Linked DNA regions of Homo sapiens. The protein of the gene in region 1 purifies or fractionates together with the protein of each later gene. This does not show direct contact. Each region holds a gene or a part of one and is shown in the gene's direction. Other genes may lie near its edges.

The links. The genes of interacting proteins can lie anywhere in the genome.
Region 2: the proteins of UBL3 (region 1) and UTP18 purify together in Homo sapiens (affinity purification with western blotting, with the first as the bait; one large-scale study listed by BioGRID). This does not show direct contact.

The regions. Positions count from the first base shown.
Region 1 is NC_000013.11:29,767,106-29,770,630, reverse strand, and holds part of UBL3 (ubiquitin-like protein 3), read left to right. Parts: intron 1-2,935; coding exon 2,936-3,013; intron 3,014-3,323; coding exon 3,324-3,376; 3' UTR 3,377-3,525.
Region 2 is NC_000017.11:51,287,897-51,291,548, forward strand, and holds part of UTP18 (U3 small nucleolar RNA-associated protein 18 homolog), read left to right. Parts: intron 1-132; coding exon 133-307; intron 308-651; coding exon of another isoform or gene 652-693; exon of another isoform or gene 694-1,296; intron 1,297-3,652. UniProt on the Homo sapiens protein: Part of the small subunit (SSU) processome, first precursor of the small eukaryotic ribosomal subunit.

The DNA.
Region 1 (3,525 bases):
TATATGAGTGAACCTTGAAATGCTCCATTTCCCTTTTGAGTATTGATCTATGTGAGCAATTTCCCACCAACTCCATTCCTTAATTATCTTTTCTGTTGTGACCTCAGAGTTTGAACTTCATATTAAAGCTCATAGAATTTGTGTTAAAATCAAAACTATTGATTTATTCCCACTAAAGTATAATTTTTTACCAGTATTTTTTTGAAATCTGTTTTAGAATAATGAACAGATTGACTTATGTAATTATTATTGTAATTCTGTGTTGCTGTCCTTCTTTTCAAAAACAATAAACTATCTCTAGTGTAGAAGCATGGCCTGGACCTCCGCGTTAATAATTGTAGCTGGATGTTTGAGCAAGTTTGGATAACAACATTCAACTATTTGTCTTTTGGGTCTCAGTTTTTCTTTTTAGCCTCCCTGTGTTCTTCAATGTGAATAATAAAGAAGATAGCACACAGGGAAATACAACCATCTTTAAATATTTGAGTGGCCTGTGTGGAAGAAGGCTTTGTGTGGCCCTAGAACTTGCTCTGTATAGCCCTGTGAATTAGACTTAGGATCAGTAACTGAAAATCAAAGACAGTTTTCTCTTCAATATAGGAAAGAATATGTGAACATGTTGAGCTACCTAAAGAAAGAATAGACTGCCAGGGAAAGTTAGTGAGATCTTGTTATAGGTAGTGGTCAAGCAGTGGATGACCACGAAGTAGTGGGTATACAGCCATGGGTGGAATTCAGCCATTATGCAGACAAAGTAGGAAGCCTGGGCATTCTCTGCCATTCTTGAAATTTTCTGCTTAAGTTTCAGGTTGAAATGTTTGGTTATCAAATGTCTTAAAACATAGCCCTGAATCCCCCCTTTTTAAAATAGAACCTTTATAGCCATATAGAGTTTCATTTCATTAAAGGAAAGGTGTGACAGCAGCCTTGTTAATCGGAGGGTGAAGAAGATGATCAGCTAAAGCTTTGGCATTCAGTATGGCCCAGATTAGCATTTCCAAAAATGTGGCTCTGAAATAGTGGGCATGAGACTCATCTAGGATACTTATTTTAAAATGCAGATTTCTGCATGCCCTCTCTCCCCAACCCCCATCTCCTAATTTTACTAGTGAATTGAATTCCTGGGTGATTTTTATGTACGCTAAAGGTTGAAAACCTCTATTCTGGATATTGTACTGTGTCATAGGAGAGAGCAGAAGCATCCACAGTGAAAGGAAGAAAACGCATTTTAGATTCTGGTATTCCTCTTCTTTCACATTTTTAAATGTTATTAACATCAATACCTACTATTTCTAGTTAAAATTCAGATGGAGAAGAAAAATAATAGCTCCCACGCATTACATTTGTAACTTCAAATGGTAAGCCTCTCAGGAGCTTTCCAGGCCTGTCTTGACATTTTTTACATATATATCTCAGTTTACCTACCTTTTTTCTCAGATTCATTTTCCTTGCTATCTCAAAATGATGATGGTAGTATATACTGAATGCTTTCTTTGTACCAAGTTCTGTGCAAAGCACTTTGCTTGGATTGTTTGATTTAATGGACACAGCTACAAAGGGCAGGTAATGGAATTAGTATCTCCAGTTTAGTTGAGGAAACAGAAGCTTAGAGGGTAAGTAACTTGCTGAGAGTTACACAGTTGGAAGTAGCAGAGATGAAAATTTGTAATCCAGGTCTGTCTTATTAGAGTCAAGAAGACGGGTATGAGAATGATATACAGCTTGGTATGTGTACATTTTAAGTTCAGTTCAAGGTTTGAAATGTTGATCAGGCTTTCCCAACTATTTAGTGAAAATTTTAATAACATAAAGTCTTACTTACATTTTGATTTAAGTCAGGCCTAGGAAGTTATTCTAAAAGCCTCCCTTTTTTCATTATGTATTTATGGGCCATCGTGCTTCATTTGAACATCAGAGGTTAAAAGTGTAGACCAAATAATGGCTGGCCAACTTTAAATGAGATTGGAACTCACCTTGAATATATGAAATAGTACTAGTGTTGAAGATAATTAGGATTCTTTTTAAAATCTGCATGTTAACCATCATCCTATAGAGCAGGTTTTAAAAAGCAGGTAGCTGGAGTGGAGGATCATTATTGCTAAGTGATGATCTTAGGCCTTACTTCAGTTTGTAGTTTTTGAAGAGAGGGTAGTTTGAGGTGTCAGAACTAAAACATAACAACTATAGAAACAGTTCTAGAAGCTAAATATACCAGCTGCTTCTAATTTTATACACAGAGTAACAAAGGGATTTACCATGAAACTCAGTATTTGTATTTGCCTTAGTGGACATGGGTGTGTGTTCTATGTCTGAAATATTTCATGATAAAATTTATTAAATTTATGAGTGAAAAAATGTTATAAAGACTTGATTAGGAAACAGTGATTATTGATAATGCCAAGAAAGTGATTATTTTAACCTAATCTTTTTAAGAAAGTTCTTTTCTAATGGACGAATACAGGGTGAGAATAAATGTTTAAAATCAAGTTTATTTCTTGCATTTCTACATCATAGTAGCCTGTTCAGTGCAGTAATTTTATTAGGCAATAGACAAGTAATTAGATTTAGAAATGAATATCTCTTAATCTAAACTTTTACCTAATATAGAAAAGAGTATTCTTTTAAAAAAAATTTAATCCTTTCTCCTCTAAAGGTGGCCTCTGATATTAGCCAATTACATATTTTTTCTTATATCATCTCTTAATATGGATAAATGTGTCAAGCAAATGGCTATATAACTGCAAAAAATAATTTCTAAATTTTAAATGTTATTTCTGATAATATTAACCTAATTTTGTGAAGGTACTCTGAGTTAAGTTGAATCTGTTAAAGAAGTCATAAAAAAGCAATCAATTTTTAAAATGGTTTTAAATCTGGATAGTGATTTTAATAGGTCGATATATGTGTAACTAATCATCTTTTGCTTTTCACATAGCATTAAAACTTCCTTTTGGCAAAACAACAGTGATGCATTTGGTGGCCAGAGAGACATTACCAGAGCCAAACTCTCAAGGTAAGCCATGCACTGGAAAAGTATCTCAGTTGAGGCACAAAGACAGGCATTCAAAAATGCTAGGTTTTTCTTGGATATGCTGAGGGAAGGGAAGTTTGCATAGTTTATGAATAGAGATTGTCAAGCAAATAACCAGACATTTTTGAAACATGCTAAAATTAAAAGAACATTTATTACAGCTTCTTAATTTTGAAAAATGCAAACATTTTTAAAAACTCAAAACTACTACTTCCTACACTTGATTGCCTAGCCCATTTTCCCCTCCAGTTCTAGAATTTTTATAAACGAGGCTCTTCTTCGTTTTCCCTAGGTCAGAGGAATCGTGAGAAGACTGGAGAGAGTAATTGTTGTGTAATCCTGTAAACACTGTCTGCCTAGTGTGATGTGATATAGTCTTTGTCTTTCATGCTGCTGGGACAGAAAAGACCCGACATTGCTTCAGAAACCGTTCAGAACAGTCTGCCTGTAAACACATGGAACTGAATTACCACATGAACACTGTCATCTTTTCT
Region 2 (3,652 bases), on another chromosome or scaffold:
GTGGTGATAGCTGGTCTCTTTGTAACATGATTCCTGTAAATACCAGTTTGTGGGGTTAAATCTATATTCACTTAGGTTGTGAAAGCCCTTTTACTTGGTTTTTAATCTATTTTAATCCTTTTCTCTTTGTAGTTCTAATTGTGGAGTGGTAAATATATACAATCAAGATTCTTGTCTCCAAGAAACAAACCCAAAGCCAATAAAAGCTATAATGAACTTGGTTACAGGTGTTACTTCTCTGACCTTCAATCCTACTACAGAAATCTTGGCAATTGCTTCAGAAAAAATGAAAGAAGCAGTCAGATTGGTAAATATTTCATTACCCCTTTATTATTGTTATTTTTTAAATTTAAGTTGAAAACATGCAAGAGTAACAGGAAAGGAGAGCGTTGAATTATTTTTAAAACAGTGGCTTCTTTTGATATAGGAATTATTAGTATTGTAGCTTTTGGATGTGGTTGTTGGAAGGATGCACAGTAGCCACCACATTTGATTATGTCACTTCTTTCAGTAAAGCTTTGCTGTCCATTCTCACCATTCCTAAAGTGGTCCTCATTTTCAGAGGTTTCTTTTAGTATTAATGTTAAGGACTATATTTAAGGCAGACACTTCATTCCTTCACAATTTTCTTTCCTCATTTACCTTTTTAAGGCCTGTTGTCTTAACAGAACGGAGGCAATTCTCGGGTTTTGAAAGTAAGTTGAACTTGAAAATTAAATTGTATAAAAGTATTGTAATTTAAATAGCTAGGTAGTACCTTTGAATATACCCTTTGTGTTAGGAATCCGCAGGACCACCTCCAGGTTTGGTGGCTAACGAGAGATGACTTCCAGGACTCTGCATATGTTCATTGAACTCATGGCTAAAATGTATTGCAGTGGAAAGGATACAAAGCAAAATCAGCAAAGGGAAAGGGTACATGGAGTAAAGTCCGGAGGAAACCTTCTAAGAGTCCTCTTCTAGTAGAGTCACACAGGACAGTTTAATTCCTCCAGTAATGAGTTGTAACAACATGTGTTAAGTGTTTTCTACCTGGGAAGCTCATTAGAGACTCATTGCAGAAGGTTTTTATTGGGACTTCATATAGGGTACCCTCTGCCTAGCATGTACCAAAATTCTAGATTCCCAGAAGAAAAGCCAGGTGTTTAGCATAAACCACATTGTTTGTACAAACAGTTTAGGCACAGTGAGCTACCCATATCATTTAGGGAAAGTTTCATGCCAGTATAGGAACTGTGTGCTAGTCAAATTCTCCGACACTATGCAGTGGCCACCCTTGTAAGCAGACCTTTCTGTTTTTTTTGTTTTTTTTTTTTTTGAGACCAAGTCTCACTCTGTTGCCCAGGCTGGACTGCAGTGGTGTGATCTCGGCTCACTGCAGCCTCCGCCTCCTGGGTTCAAGCGATTCTTCTGCCTCAGTCTCCTGAGTAGCTGGGATTATAGGCATGCGCCACCACGCCCAGCTCATTTTTGTATTTTTTTTTTTTTTTTAAGTAGAGACGGGGTTTCACCATTTTGGTCAGGCTGGTCTCGAACTCCCGACCTCATGGTCCACCTGCCTCGGGCTCCCAAAGTGCTGGGATTACAGGAGTGAGCCGCCGTGCCCAGCCCAGAACTTTCTAAGGATAGCAGCCTTGGGCCTATGTAAACTCTTTTCTGCCCAACATCAGAGCTCACTTTCAGTGTCACCCCATCTCTGTGAAGTTTCCTAATCTTCAGGCAGAGCCAATTTTCTCATTCATTTAACAATTTTTTGCTCAAGGCACCAGGTATACAGAAGGCATAGAACTTTGAATAGCAGAATTATGTTTGCTGCTATGTGTGTACTACCAGATTGTACGCACTTTACAAAGTGTGTTATTTTTATTGTGCTCACTTGGCAAAAAGCCTTGCATCTGCCATCAGCTTTGTATTAGAATATATCGTTTACAAAGATTTACAAAGAGTTCTACAAAAAGTTTGAGCCAAGTAACAGTTCTTCAGAGGATTAACTTAACCAAAGTAAACAGTTAATAAAGGGCAGAATTGTGATTTAGATTCCACATTTTTTTCTAGCAGTTCATTGGTTTTCTGGCTGAATTCCACAGAGCCCTAGATTCTGCACAGGGCTTTATATGGCATGTAGGGCAAGGAGGAGGCTAAGCTCCTTAACTTGTATCATGTAGAGCAGTGTCATTGTTGTCTGTGGTATATATATTGGGATTCTGCATATGATTTCCTTAAGAAATGTTTTGTTGCGCTGGGCACGGTGGCTCAGACCTGTAATCCCGGCACTTTGGGAGGCTGAGGTGGGTGGATCACTTGAGGTCAGGAGTTCAAGACCAGCCTGGCCAACATGGTGAAACCCCATCTCTACTAAAATTACAAATATTAGCTGGGCATTGTGGTGGGCGTCTGTAATCCCAGCTACTCAGGAGGCTGAGGCAGGAGAATGGCTTGAGCCTGGAAGGTGGAGGTTGCAGTGAGCCAAGATCGTGCCTCTGTACTCCAGCCTGGGTGACAGAGTAAGAGTCTGTCTCAAAAACAACAACAACAACAACAAAATGGTTTGCTGGAAAAAGAGTGTGAAAATTACAGCATAGCATTTTATTGCTATGCTGTTGAATGAATCATTTGATAAATGAGAAGGTTCTAATTCAAGTCAGCTTTAAAATCCCTGCTCCCTAATGGGAGTGGTATACTAGTAATATTAACCTTTTATCACTTTAATGGTAGTAAATTGTTTTAGAAAACCATGGGATCTATCTCCTGTTGACATAATATATTCTGCAAGACACATAATAGTTCTGCATTGTTTGCTTCAGTGATCATGACAGCATTTATATTTTTTTTATTGTGGCAAAATCACATAAGGAATTCATTAGTAAAAGCCAAATCACAGTTTTTAAATGGTAGTCAACCATAATATCTAATGGAAAGAAGCCAGGCATAGCAGCTCCATATAATGCCTTGTAAAAAACATTGTTAGCATTGTTAAATGCAGTCAATTCCTTATAATGATCTAGACGGTTTTGTCATCCCATTACAAAGCACTGTGAATTTAAGCTGTTGGACTAGTAGGAGACTCAGAAGTCAAATTCCTGTTACATCGACAATTTTGGATATAGTAGAACGTCATGGAACTTTCTACCCATTAAATCAAGGATGAGCGAGCTTTTACTTGTTGAATTTTGATATCTGTACACTTAACTGTCGTGATAGAAATGGTATTAGAAAGCTGGCTGCGGTGGCTCACGCCTGTAATCCCAGCACTTTGTGAGGCCGAGGCAGATGGATCACCTGAGGCCAGGAGTTAAAGAAGTTGGATCTTTATAGGCATTTTTCCTAATTAATAGTTCAATTATACCTTTTAAAATGGGGGCTATAAATAGATGTCAGAGCACAGCATAGTTTTAATCAGGTGAGATCATTGGCTTGAGGGAAGATTCACCAATGCATTGAGAGATTACACTGGGGAATTTTGCAGGTAGATGCTGTTGATCTCTTAGGACATTGTAAACAATTCCCCTCCTTTTCCCGATATTCCAAGTCAGTAGCAGAGATAAAGTTTAAAAATAGGTCAGGTGCAGTGGCCCACACCTTAATCCCAGCACTTTGAGAGGTCAAGGTGAGAGGATCACTTGAGGCCAGGAGTTTGAGACCAGCCTGGCCA